2 linked regions of the Homo sapiens genome follow. The protein of the gene in region 1 interacts with the protein of each later gene in a biochemical or structural test. Each region holds a gene or a part of one and is shown on either strand. Other genes may lie near its edges.

What was found. The genes of interacting proteins can lie anywhere in the genome.
Region 2: the proteins of BMP6 (region 1) and ACVR1 form a complex in vitro, tested with the Homo sapiens proteins (one study listed by BioGRID).

The regions. Positions count from the first base shown.
Region 1 is NC_000006.12:7,875,722-7,882,710, reverse strand, and holds the end of BMP6 (bone morphogenetic protein 6 preproprotein), read right to left. Parts: intron 3,638-6,989; coding exon 3,561-3,637; intron 2,721-3,560; coding exon 2,610-2,720; intron 2,518-2,609; coding exon 2,368-2,517; 3' UTR 983-2,367; downstream 1-982. UniProt on the Homo sapiens protein: Growth factor of the TGF-beta superfamily that plays essential roles in many developmental processes including cartilage and bone formation.
Region 2 is NC_000002.12:157,761,038-157,768,896, reverse strand, and holds part of ACVR1 (activin receptor type-1 precursor), read left to right. Parts: intron 1-2,700; coding exon 2,701-2,976; intron 2,977-7,819; coding exon 7,820-7,859. UniProt on the Homo sapiens protein: Bone morphogenetic protein (BMP) type I receptor that is involved in a wide variety of biological processes, including bone, heart, cartilage, nervous, and reproductive system development and regulation.

The DNA.
Region 1 (6,989 bases):
GTTCCTCTGATCTTAAGGTCACAGTTGACTCAATACTGTGTTGGTCCGTAGCATGGAGCAGATTGAAATGCAAAAACCCACACCTCTGGAAGATACCTTCACGGCCGCTGCTGGAGCTTCTGTTGCTGTGAATACTTCTCTCAGTGTGAGAGGTTAGCCGTGATGAAAGCAGCGTTACTTCTGACCGTGCCTGAGTAAGAGAATGCTGATGCCATAACTTTATGTGTCGATACTTGTCAAATCAGTTACTGTTCAGGGGATCCTTCTGTTTCTCACGGGGTGAAACATGTCTTTAGTTCCTCATGTTAACACGAAGCCAGAGCCCACATGAACTGTTGGATGTCTTCCTTAGAAAGGGTAGGCATGGAAAATTCCACGAGGCTCATTCTCAGTATCTCATTAACTCATTGAAAGATTCCAGTTGTATTTGTCACCTGGGGTGACAAGACCAGACAGGCTTTCCCAGGCCTGGGTATCCAGGGAGGCTCTGCAGCCCTGCTGAAGGGCCCTAACTAGAGTTCTAGAGTTTCTGATTCTGTTTCTCAGTAGTCCTTTTAGAGGCTTGCTATACTTGGTCTGCTTCAAGGAGGTCGACCTTCTAATGTATGAAGAATGGGATGCATTTGATCTCAAGACCAAAGACAGATGTCAGTGGGCTGCTCTGGCCCTGGTGTGCACGGCTGTGGCAGCTGTTGATGCCAGTGTCCTCTAACTCATGCTGTCCTTGTGATTAAACACCTCTATCTCCCTTGGGAATAAGCACATACAGGCTTAAGCTCTAAGATAGATAGGTGTTTGTCCTTTTACCATCGAGCTACTTCCCATAATAACCACTTTGCATCCAACACTCTTCACCCACCTCCCATACGCAAGGGGATGTGGATACTTGGCCCAAAGTAACTGGTGGTAGGAATCTTAGAAACAAGACCACTTATACTGTCTGTCTGAGGCAGAAGATAACAGCAGCATCTCGACCAGCCTCTGCCTTAAAGGAAATCTTTATTAATCACGTATGGTTCACAGATAATTCTTTTTTTAAAAAAACCCAACCTCCTAGAGAAGCACAACTGTCAAGAGTCTTGTACACACAACTTCAGCTTTGCATCACGAGTCTTGTATTCCAAGAAAATCAAAGTGGTACAATTTGTTTGTTTACACTATGATACTTTCTAAATAAACTCTTTTTTTTTAAAAGTCTGGTCTTTCCTTCAATGTTACAGCAAAACAGATATAAAATAGACAATAAATTATAGTTTATATTTACAAAAAAAGCTGTAAGTGCAAACAGTTGTAGATTATAAATGTATTATTTAATCAGTTTAGTATGAAATTGCCTTCCCAGTACATGATTGTGAAAAAGACATTTAGAAAATATTCTAAAATTTAATCTGAGCCTCACTTTCTACAAGGGAAATCATGATTTCCGTTCATAAACAGCATGCTCATCCCCCTAACACCATTCTTATAAGCTGGGCACCCTCATTTTATTTTCTTCGTTGGTTCTAACCCTGTGGCGTGGTATGCTGTATAGTAAAAAGGCAGAGAACCACTTTACTGAAAAGGTACTAGAGCCGGCAGTCCAGAAGTTAATGTGCTGGTCAAAGAACCGTTCTGGTAAAGAAGAGGTGAGCATTGCCTTCACGTGTTACACGGTTACACACCCCTTGTAGCCTCACCTCAGTGTAATCAGTCTACTTTTGGTACTAGCAAAGAGTACAGCAAATGGAGGATTGAGGTGTAGAAATGGTATGTTTTGGCTGAAATAAGTGTATTTTCACACCAACAAAACTCCAGCACGAACATACAACAGCAATGACTGAGACAAGGGCGCCCCGTGGAGCCCTGGCTGTGGCCTGGGCTGTGCGTCCTGTGGACTTCTGGGAATGAACTGAACAGAGGCGTTCCCCCCACTTCCCCGATTTCTGTTCTCTGTAAAATCTACCTTTGATAGACAGTACTGAACCAGCTGATCCTTTAGCCAAGAATACATTTAACTCCTTTGAGATTATTTTCCCTATTTACTAACAAACACCCCAAATAGCTTGATCTACAGCTAAAACTAATTTTGGTGGGTTTTTGGGGGAGGAGGGTAGGAAGAGCTTCACGGTTATGTTTCTGCAGTTACCAGACCTTATGCTACAGACATCCAAACTCAGCTTGCTACAGACCAACAACTACTCACGTCATTTACCAAGTGAGCAAATTATTAATGAGGTCCTTTAAAATCTTCCTGGGTAATAAGGCACTGGCATGAGATAGTTTCAAAGTCTCATCGTCCCACCTCCAACTGTGCTTCCGTGTTTTTTTAAGGCAGATGTAATCTAGGAATCCAAGGCAGAATGTGTGTCCCCAGCATCTGGTTTCGAGTTAGTGGCATCCACAAGCTCTTACAACCATATTCCTGTATTTTTTCAGAATGACATTGGAGTTGTCATCAAAGTAAAGAACCGAGATGGCATTTAGCTTAGTTGGCGCACAGCACGGTTTGGGGACATACTCGGGGTTCATAAGGTGAACCTGTTCCAAAACAGAAGGGGAGAAGGTACCTTAGAAATGACACCTGGTCTTGGCTTACTCCCACTTACAAAACAAAGTCTCCGAGAGCTCACCAAGGTCTGCACAATCGCGTGGTTGGTTGCATTCATGTGTGCGTTGAGTGGGAAGGAGCATTCTCCATCACAGTAATTGGCAGCATAGCCCTTGGGTGCAATGATCCAGTCCTTAATTTCATGCAAAGGAAGCAACAAAAGATGAGCATGCACTTCTCACACTATTTGTGCTTTTCAGGAATGCTGTGAAAAGGTATTTTTCACATTGCACAGGCAAGGATACAGACGCAGGAAGGCTTAGGAATTTGTCCAAGTTCACATTCAAGTGGCAATGCTGGGAAGTGAACCTGGTCCATCTGACCCCAGAACCCTCGCTCCTTGCAGAGGCCCACAGGGCCTCAGCTGCTACCTGGAAGCACGTAGGTTGCCAGCAATATGTGCTTGGACCCAAGCAAGCCTCTCCAGGAGCCCACGGTGCTCCTGCGGAAGTAGTGCCACCTGCATATGGAAGCTACCTTTTATCGCTCACCACCTGTGATTAAAGTTGCTGCCTTTCTTACAAACTAGTGATGGTTCTCAGGTACGAGGCAAACGTGTGCTCTTCTGCATCGTTTGGTGAGCTGGTTTGCAGCCATTGGAGATGTTAACCATTAGGTAATTTTTTTCCAACCCTGTCTCAATTAAAATTTGTTTAAATGCCCAAATAAATGTATGTCCTATGGGCTTTGAAAGGATGAGGTGAGAATATTGGGAAATGTGGCTATTGATTTTTGAGGGATCACAGAGCTCAGGCACCCTAGGAAGGTGTTGGAGCGCCTGGTGCCCCACAGACTAAGCTTCCTCTGCCTTACTCCAGGAGCCTGAGCATTTGGGAGGGCTCCTCAGGACTTCCACAGAAGGAAGCAGCTCAGCCTTCAATCAAGCTCTGGGTGTTTGGTAATGGCTGCCACCATTCAGATGAGAGTAAACTGCTGAGAAAGGACCTTTATCCCCCGTGTCCAGAGAACTCACCTGCCATCCCAGGTCTTGGAAACTCACATACAGCTCATGCTTCCTGCAGGCTGTTTTCAATTCACTGCTGTTGTAATCTGTTGGAGGAGATCAAAAGATGCACCCATCAAAAGATGCACCCATCAACTCATTAATTCCTTCATAGAGAGTTTACCACATGCCAGGCTCTGTGCTAGGCTCAGGATAGCCTCCTAGATACAAGTATGGTCACCCAACAGCTACATCAGGTTCCTGACTGTTGGCTTGAATGTCTTACGGAATCCGTTTTGTCTACCCTGGGGTCAGTACTGGGAGCAGGGTGACTTGAATGGACACCCTTAAGCAACAGAGGTGTGTTGTGAGCCCTGCTGCATGCAAGGCCTATGGAGGCGTGGGCCGACTTGCCCAGTACACCCCAGAGGCGCCAGACCGGGAAGGCATCACATTCACATGATCAGACAACGCTACTAGGCAGGATTTGCTGCAGTCCAAACAGGGAGCATTTTGAAACTGCACAGGGGCTTTCAAGACAGCTGCCGGGCCAGAAGAGTATCCTGAAGGAAGAGTAATGGTGGAGTGGGGCCAAACCAGGAGGCCCAGGAACGGGGGAGAGGGAGACACCACGCAGGGGCAATGCTCTCTCTGGCTGTACTCCCACCTCACTGCCAGGGTTGAGCTCTTGTGTGCTGATGCAATAACACTAAGCCAGGGGTTCCTCAGGAGACTCTGCTGAAGTGCATGTACCCACCCTGTGCAGCACAGGGGCCACTAGCCTGGCTTAACTGAATCACCAGCAAGAGCACTGGGGGTGCCCCAATTCACTGAGGCCCACTGGAGCGACTCTTACGTGACATGCCTTCTGCCTGGCACCACGGCCAATAGACGGTAAGTCAGACATGGCTTTCCTCCCTCCAAGAACTCAGTGAATGAAGGGGTGGTGTAAAACAGACACACAAATAACTCCAATACAAACCAGAACATGGATGCTACGGGCAAAGGCCATAGGCAAATATCACACAGGCAAGGGCCATAGGCAAATGTCCCTTCAGAGAAGGGACAGTTCAGAGTGGGAGTGAGAGGAAGAGAGAGGAGTTCTGCTGGAATGGATTTAAGGATGTGTCAAGCAGGGTCGGATGAGATAAAGCTGGAGAAATGAATGGCCTAGGCTGCCAACCACAATGCTTCGGACTTCCCACCAGAGGCACAAAGTGAGCCTTTGCAGGGTTCTGAGCTGCAGAGCAGCATTTCCCGCTGTGATTCGAAAGGATTAATCCATCTGGAGTTGTGTTGGAGAGTTCGAGAAACGACGGAGAGAGAAAAGGCAAGGAGAAGGCTTTAGAGAAAGGTCATCTAATGTGGGATGTCAGTGGGTGTAAGAGCCTAGGTCATTTGCAGGCTATCCCTTCCCTTTTCAACTACATAAGCCAGTAAGTCACCTAATTGTTGAAAGCCTGTTTGAACTTGATTTTCTAACTTCTAACTCCCAGTCTTCCTGGCTCTGAAGCAGGAGAGAGCGTGCAGATTTCATTAATTTTTTTTTTTTTCTTTTGAGACAGAGTCTTGCTCTGTTACCCAGACTGAAGTGCAATGGCACGAGCTCGGCTCACTGCAACCTCTGCCTCCTGGGTTCAAGCGATTCTCCTGCCTCAGTCTCCCGAGTAGCTGGGACTACAGGCGCGAGCCACCATGCCCAGCTAATTTTTTGTATTTTTAGTAGAGATGGGGTTTCAACACATTGGCCAGGCTGGTCTCGAACTACTGACCTTAAGTGATCTGCCCATCTCAGCCTCCCAGAGTGCTGAGATTACAGGTGTGAGCCACCATGCCCCACCAGATTTCATGATTTTTTAAGGAAAAGAGACAGTGACTCAGGCCAGTGGCCTATACTGGGAGAAGAGATGGGGCAACTTTTTTAGGTGGTTTATAATTCTAAATTTATTTATCCTCTCCACCTGCCTATGTTACCCAACAGAACCACCCTGCCTTTAACTTTAAGGACCCCAGAGAAGCCCTGGAGGGAAATTTTCACAATGCAGGACAAGGACTCTCTCAGTAAAAACAATCAACCAACTATCACCATAAGACAGAAACTTCCTACTGAAAAGAACCCCTGAACAAAAATGAATCAGCCACACAAAGTCTCTCAAGAGGATGGCTGGAATGCAAGGGAAGACCCAGAGGACCCCAGAGACTGTGGATAAGAGTCATCTGAACTAAGCTCTAAAGGAAGAATACCAAAACAAAACAAAACAATAACAAAACTAAAAACAAAAACTAGAGGAAAAAAAAGGAAGAATACCTAAAATAATGGAAGGAAGAAAAGAAGGACTAGAAACCTTAAAACAAAATTATGGGGAAAAAACATGAAAAAAGAACAGGTAGATGTAAAAAGAGTCAAATAGAACTTTATAAAAACCATAACCATTGAAAATAACAATGAAATCAGATTAGATATAACTAAAGATCAGATTAAACAGGTTAAACATTAGTTGTCTAATTAACAGATTAAACAGATTACTTAACAGATTAGTTATACATTAAACAGATAATCATCAAATTACACATAACTGAAGACAGAATTAAAGAATTCAACAGTATATTTGAAATCTCTTCAAATATAGCACAGAATCAAATGGCCAAAATACATGACTGTCTCTTTGTAAAGAGACATGGAAGAGAGAATGAAAAGTCCAACAAATTTCTAATAGGAATTTCGGAAGGCAGTAATAGGGAGTAGTAGTATTTGAAGACATAATGACTGGGAATTTTCTACAACTAAAGAAAGGCAAACATCTTTAAGTTGAAAAGGCCCAAAGAGTTCCAAGAGGATCAGATAAATTCTTATCTAGCCACATGTAGTGAAATTATATCAAACACATAAATTCTTAAAAGTAATCCAGAGATAAAAAGAAAATTACTAAGAAACACAAAATGGATAGCAAACTTAACAAAAATACACATTAAAAAATTAAATAATATGAAAATGATGCCATCAAACCTAGAATGCCATACCCAGCTGTAGTGGATATTTACTGCTTTTGCTACCCAGCTTTTGGCAACACTTCGCATGTGGGGGAATGCCTAGATAGGTGGGACTCAGAGCCCCATTTCCCACGACAGATAGCTCCCCTCTTTGTCCCCTAGCATCTGAAGTACGGACTCATGACTTCATCAAAGCCAATCAAATGTCTCCACCCTGCAGTGTATAACCTGAGGGAGTGACTCAAAGGTGACATCAAGAATGGGTAGTACGGCAGCCAGTGTCTAGGGTGATGACCACATTGGAGGGATCCAAAGCACATTGTTCCATGACTAGATCTGAGCCTTGATTTCCTGAATTAAGTCTCCAGCCTTTTTGTTGATTGGGTAAGTTCCCTGGTACGCTTTTCTCTCTCATTACAGTCTGCTTCTACTGCATGCAATCTAGAGCACTGTGATAGTTAATTTTGT
Region 2 (7,859 bases), on another chromosome or scaffold:
CTACGCGGTAACCACAGGTGCATTATGTGCATTTTGTTACAGAATCTTCACCATGACCATAAGAGAATAGGTACTCTCATTTTCCCAGTTTTAAATGTTGAGGTAACCAATATACAGAGAGGTTAAATAGTGGAGGTGGAAATTACATCAGGCAGCCTAACTCTTAACCACAGTTTTGTACTCAAAACACAAACATTCTATAAAAGTACTCTAGAATCATGAAGCAAAGGTAGTTATATAATTCACGCTTAAGAGATAAACAGTTAAAAAGAAAACCCTGCTTATTTAAAAGTAATTTTTTTCCTGATGGTCTAGAGCATAATTAATGGGACAGATAAACTTCTTCCCTAAGACCTAAGGGGCTTAGTGAAGGTGAGATAATAAAAATGTATTCGTTTATTATTTATTTATTTAATCAGAAGCTCCTTTTTCTTGGGAGAGGAAATCAGTAGAGGCTACACAGATATATAACAGTAATTTAATTTCTTTTGAGTGGTGCTGTTAGAGTTTGGGGTATTTTTTAAGAAAATCATTAAAGATTAGTATTATTTGGTTCAAACTGTTAAAGCAGAAACATTTTCTTTATTAAGAATAACTAATGTCCAAGAACACATTTTGATGCATATTGTGGCCAGCTAAGGGCTCCAAGAGAAGCAGCATCGAGGGGAAAAGCAGACTGGGGAGCAGGGAAGGAGTGGGAGACTCAGGGCTGGCCATGGGAATAGGCTTAGAGGAAGAGAGAGAAAGAAGTAGAGGGTGAAGGTGCTAAAATATTATTCAGTTTGCTTTGCATATGTCCCATAGGTGAAAATGTGAAATTATTTTTTCTCTGAGTAGAAATCAGTTTGTTTGGGGACAGTATGGCATAGTCAGTAAGAGTCTGGGTTCTAGAATCAGACCTACAGGAACCTAATATCAATTATGCGATCTACTTACTTCATGTGGTTTTTGGAGGATTGCATATAAAGTTCCAGGCATGTAGTACTCAATAATTATTAGCTGCCTCTGTTGTGGTTGCCGATGATGATGATGATCAAATAGGGGACCTTTCTTGGCTCACAGAGCCTTCCTATGCAAGGTATCAGGACAGCTAGCACTAAATTCAGAGTTGATAGCAACTTAAATAGCTGTGTGATCCTTGGCATCTCCCAGCACCAACTTTATTATCTGTAAAATGAGCATAATGATGTCTTTCTTACCAGCTTGTTGGGAAAAATCTCATGAGAAAATATATGTGAAAGTGACATAAATTTTATATAAAGTACTATGCAAGTATAAAGCATTTTAATGTATTTTCTCTTACATTTTCATAAGTCATTTAATTCTTCCTCAAGCCATATCCGTCTTAAAAAATTTTTTTTCTCACCTCTTTTTAAGTCCCAAACTTCACTGTCTACCAGCGTGGTTCATATATGTGAGAATAATCCTAGAAAGGCACCTCTGTAGCAGAAAAGGCAAGCACACGTCACAATTTATTTCATAAGATAGGAAGTGCCCCTAACTTCCAGACAGTCTTCTGCATGCTCAAAAGTTCCCTCCAGATGTCTAGAAAAATCTCTTCCGGGCTGATCGCGATGTCTCACGCTTGTAATCCCAGCACTTTGGGAGGCCAAGGCAGGTGGATCACCTGAAGGTCAGGAGTTTGAGACCAGCGTGGCCAACGTGGGGAAACCTCATCTCTACTTAAAATATAAAAAATTAGCCCGGCGTGATGGTGGGCCCCTGTAATCCCAGCTACTCGGGAGGCTGAGGCAGGAGAATCACTTGAACCCAGGAGGCGGTGGTTGCAGTGAACCGAGATCGCGCCATTGCACTCCAGCCTGGGCAACAAGAGGGAAACTTCGTCTCAAAAAAAAAGAAAAAGAAAAAGAAAAATCTTCTCCAACCTCTTCATCCACATTTGTCAGTCACTCACTTTACTTCAAGACCAGTTGAGTTGCCACTTCCTAATGGAAGCCTATTGTAACACCTAGTCTGAATTACTATAATTTCCTGCTCTGGGCTCATGTTGCCCTTTGAAGATATATATTATAGTACTTTTCGTATTTTATTGTAGTGTTTTCGTTTTTACATCTGTCTTCTTTAGCCAGCAAACACTATCATCTTGGTTTTTCTGTGTGTGACTGACAGATAGCATCATAAATACTCATATATTTGGTTGGTTTCTTTTTTTATTTCGTGAATCAGTCAATCATTTAATGTAAACTTGCCCCCTTTATTTTACATCTGAGCAGATATAGGCTAAGGAGCCTAACTGAGTTGCCCAGTATTAGACAAGTAAATCACAGGCAGAGTCAGGACTAGAATACAGTACTCAGGTTTTAGATTTGATGTTCTTTTAGGATGGTTGATGAATGGTCTGTTCCTAAAATATCAACATGCTGAAGGGCTTGGCACTATCATTATGGGTGAGCACAAAGATATTATTGCTATCTGAAACTTAAGGAATGTAAAATATCTTTTAAAGTATTACTTATAATGAAATGAATATGAAATTTTCCTATTAGCAGTGCCCTTTTAAGGAATAAATGCTATTATTTTTCTCTGTTGATGCTTCTGTAAACCTCCTCTTAGGGCAATTGGTCAGTTTAATTACTTTTTGTTACAGATGACATTTACTGTGTAGGTCGCTATTTCTAAATACTTTAAGTTATAATGTGGAATCCTCATGTATATTAATTTTTTTCTTGCTCTCTCCAGGTTTCATTGCTTCAGACATGACATCAAGACACTCCAGTACCCAGCTGTGGTTAATTACACATTATCATGAAATGGGATCGTTGTACGACTATCTTCAGCTTACTACTCTGGATACAGTTAGCTGCCTTCGAATAGTGCTGTCCATAGCTAGTGGTCTTGCACATTTGCACATAGAGATATTTGGGACCCAAGGGAAACCAGCCATTGCCCATCGAGATTTAAAGAGCAAAAATATTCTGGTTAAGAAGAATGGACAGTGTTGCATAGCAGATTTGGGTAAATTTCTAAAAATATTTTTTTCCTCACCAGTTTTATTTTTGTTTCAATGGTTAGGTGAGTTGCATCTCTCCCCCACAACATGTTATGCAAAATTTCAAACATGCAGAAAAGTTGAACATTTACAATGAACACCTTTATACCCACCACATAGATTCTCACATTAACATTTTACTATCCTTAAGCATTATTATGTATTTATTCATCTATTCATCTCCCCATCCATCAGTCCATATCAACCTTTGATAGAGTTGAAAGTAAATTGCAGACAAAGGAATTCTTTCTTCTGATGATTTCAGCATGTACACTAGTATATCATTGACAAGAATGCATTATTTGCTTTTTCTTTTTTTCAGGTAAAATTTATATACTGTGAGATATACAAATCTTAAGAGTTTTGACAAATGTTGTAAAACCCAAATCCCTGTCGAGATACAGAGTTTCCCATTACTCTTGACAGTTACCTCAGGCTCATTCAGTCAGTCCCTGCCACACCCCACCTCAGAAGTAACCAGTACTGTTGCATTTTGGTTTCACTAACCTTCACATAAAGTAGGTGCACAATAAATACTCTATAGAATTAGTTTATCTTAAAAGTGGTCTCTAAAATCATTCTGTAACCAAGGCAAAAGAATCAAGTTAAGAAATAGGAAAATAATCCCCGAACTGATTCACTCTTTTCCCTGTTAGGATAGCTCATTCTTATGGTGTTAGAGTAGTACTCAGTGTAGCTTTAGTTGCATTATAAATAAGAGTATTTTCATTTATAGTGGCATTTTATATAAAACCATGTTCTTCCTGGATTCCTAGAATATTGGCTAAATAATTGTGCTAATGAGAATTCAGGGCCCTCTACTTGATTAAACATGGTTTATATGATATTTATATTATTGCAATTATTGTTAGCCTGATAAAGGTTTAGACAAAAATAGCTTTAGTTATGTAAATAACAAAGTTTATTTTTGTTTGTTTTTAAACATAAGGGATTTGACATGTTAGGAAAATTTATTTCCTTTGAATCCCTTTAAAGTCTTTGCTTTTACATTGAGAAATTACAATGTTTCCCAAGTAGGAGACGAAAGATTTTAGGATAAGCATTGAAAGAGCATGGCCCTAAAGTTTTTTGCAGGCATTTTTAGTTGTGGTGTAGAGGACTTTTATGGCTTATTCCATGGCTCTTAGAGCCAGGGCGATTTGGGTTTAAATTCTGGCTTTCTCAATTACCCTGTATTTTTGTGCAAGTCTATTTATCTATTTACCTGGCCCAAGTGCTGACACTGCTTTCACTCAGTGAGACAGGGACAGTGAGGGCGAAGGCGGATGGGGTTGGGAGTTAGCCAAGAGGAACTCCAGGGCTTGACGCTGTGCCCTGTACTTCTGCGTTGTTAGAAACTTGCATAACAGTGTGATCGTGGCCGGGCGCGGTGGCTCACGCTTGTAATCCCAGCACTTTGGGAGGCCGAGGCGGAAGGATCACTTGAGGTCAGGAGTTCAAGATGAGCCTGGCGAACGTGATGAAACCCCATCTCTACTAAAAATACAAAAAAAAAAAAAAAAGAAAAATAATAATAATAGCCGGGCGTGGTAGCGTGCGTCTGGAATCTCAGCTACTGGGGAGGCTGAGGCAGCAGAATTGCTTGAACCCAGGAGGCGGAGGTTGCAGTGAGCCGAGGTCGCGCTATTGCACTCCAGCCTGGGCGACAGAGCGAGACTTCGTCTAAAAAAAAATATATATATAGTGTGATCATATATTACTCATGTAACTAAAAAATAAGCCCACCTCACCGGATTCTGGTAAGGCCCAGAAGTATTATAAATGTCTGGTAAACAATAAGGATTCAAGTTGTAGCTTCTGTTATAATCCAGTGGTCTGGGGAGGGTGGACAAATTGAGGTGGCTCTTGGTTTTGGTTTATGGGACTTGGTAGGGAAGGAGTTGAGGGGAACTTTGCAGTAAGTCCAGCTAATTAATTCTTCAACTACATTTCTTTTGGCTTGTAACCTTCCAATTAGATATATGGGTTTGTATAAAAATCTGTTAAGGCGTTATTATTCAGGATATGGTAAAACAATGCAGTGCAGGAAACAACTCTTATAAGACCATAATTTGTATATAACTTACCAGTATATACCTAGCAATTAAGGATCATGTATTAGAAATAGTGTTCTATGATTAATCCTGCAAAAAGATCAGTATTATATTGATTAATTGATTGAGAGAGGATCTTATTCTGTTGCCCAGGCTGATCATAGGTCACTGCAGCCTCGATCTACTGGGCTTAAGCAATCTTCCTGCCTCAGCGTTCCAAAACAGCTGGGACTACAGGTGTGTACCACCACACCTGGCTAACTTTTTTTTGTTCTTAGTAGAAATGAGGTCTCACTATGTTGCTCAGGCTGATCTTGAACACCTGAGCTCAAGTGACAATCCCATCTCGGCCTCCCAAAATGTTGAGATTACAGATGTGAGCCACTGTGCCTCGTCTGTTTTTCTTTTTATTATTAAAAAATTCAAATGTTATAATGATCACTTAAATCCCGAACACCTAGATTCAATAATTGTTAAAACTTTGTGATGTTTGCTTTATCAATCTGTGACCATGTGTATATTTTTGCCAATCCATTTGAAAATAAAGTGTTACAGGCATCACAACACTTTACCCCTCAATACTTCAAAATTCATCCCTTGAAAATACTTAAAAATGCATCTTCTTCATAATCAGTTTTTCATATCTACAGATTATTGATAATTCTCTAGTATCATTTTATATTCATTTTCAGATGTTTTCAGTTTTTTCAAAGAGGAACTCAGCCAAAGTTTACAAATTGCATCCGGTTGTTTTGTCATCTTTAGTGTAAAAATTACTTATTACTAAGAACAAATCACCTGTAAAATTTAGCATCTTAAAACAACACAGATTTGTTATCTCACACAGTCTCTTGAGAGTCAGGAATCTTGGAATGACTTAGCGGTGTGGTTCTGGCTCAGGGTCTCGTGGAGGTTGCAATCATCTGAACGCTCAACCAGAGCTGGAGTTTCCAACTCTGTGAGGACACACTTAAAGCCATGATTGGCGGCAGGTCTCAGCTCCTTGCAGGGGGACCTCTCCACAGGGTTGCTTGAGTGTCTTTATAACATGGTGCATGGTGAGCTGAGAGGGACAAACAGGAAGCCTTTTATAATTTTATAACATCTGTTATATCCTAACTGTGAAGATACCCACTGTCACTTATGCCATAGTCTATTCAATAGTCCAGCATACACTCAAGGGATGGGGAATTATGCCTCACCTGGAGATCCTAGCAGTGGTGGCTTTAAAATATGTCCACAAGTTCTTTGAAGCTTCTCCCATCTTCAGAATATCTCCATGTTCTATTTAACCTGCACCTTTTAAATATTCTGATATTTTGACTGTTTGGTTCTGCAAATGGTGGAGGGGCATACAGTAGTCCCCTCTTTTCCCTGAGAAATACCTTCCAATACTCCCAGTGGATTCCTGAAACTCAGGATAGTACCAGATTCTATATATACTATGTTTTTTCCTATTACATACCTATTATAGTTTAATTTATAGATTAGCTACAGTAAAAGATGAACATTAGTAACACTAAAATGGAACAATGATAGCAGTATGCTATAATAAAATTTATGTGAATATGGTATCTCTCTCAAAATACTTAATTGTACTGTACTTACCTATTTTTGGACTGTAGTTGACTGCGGGTAACTGAAGGATAAGTGGGGGGACTATTGCATAGGATTTGGGAAATGTTCACAGTGTCCATAGAATCTTGGGGTTGATTATAAAAATAGGTGAAAGAGGAACCTGTCTGTTTTAGTGTAATGCAGTTGCCAGTATCTTTGCTAATTATTAAGGATGAGATAAGGTGTGCTAGCTCCCTGATGTTATATGAAATTGTCATCCCCCACATTCAAAGCCGTGGAGTGGAAGGTGAAGCATTCTCTGTAGATGGCTTGAGAGATCAACAAGGGATATTTGCATTGCAGTGGTTTACAGGGACTGCTTGCTCCAATTTGGCACTTTTCATTACAACAAATGTTATAGGAATCATTTTCAGTCAGTCTGCATATGCATCAGTAACATAAAATCATCCACAAATAAAGCATGCATGTATGTGTCTCCCCACTGGCCAGTGAAGAAAGCCTGTCTCCCTAATTGACTGAGGAATTCTGGAATGAGTCATGGTTTAAGAAAGCATTTGAAAGCCATTTAACCTGAGAGTTGTGCTTTCAATTGAGGTCCAGTTAAATGCTGTCTGTTTCCATGATTCTAGAGAAAAGGCCTGTGGGTTTGGTCAGCATTACTGCTCAGATAAGCAGCTCTTCCTTTAGGAATAAAGCAGTGCTTATAGCAATCTGCCCTTTATGTAGTGATAAATTACTTTAAATGCTCTATCTCACACTGTTGGAAATTTGTGTTTGGAGACTAGTGAGAGCAGTGGTGGAGCTTGAGAGCTTAATTTGCTTCTTGTTAAGCCACTTAGAGGCTCACATTTAACATGTGAGCCTGTTTTCCTGTGGACCTCAAACACAGGCCACATTGGTTTAGTGCATTGGTCTACAATTTACCCAAAACTTTTTGTCTCTTTGAGGTTCATATATTAACCTGATAGCCTTAGAATGTTTCTGACATTTAGTCCCTTTTCTGCTCTCACCCCGGAAATAATCACAAAGGGCATTCTAGGGATCATTCTGAGTGTATTGCAACAGTGACCCTGGATCCACAAGAGGGCACTTTTGATTGGGGTTGGTTTAAAATCCTTCAGCAGCCTCTTATGAGAAAGGAAGTGGGTTGATTACATTGTTATCTTCTTCCTTTCAGGCCTGGCAGTCATGCATTCCCAGAGCACCAATCAGCTTGA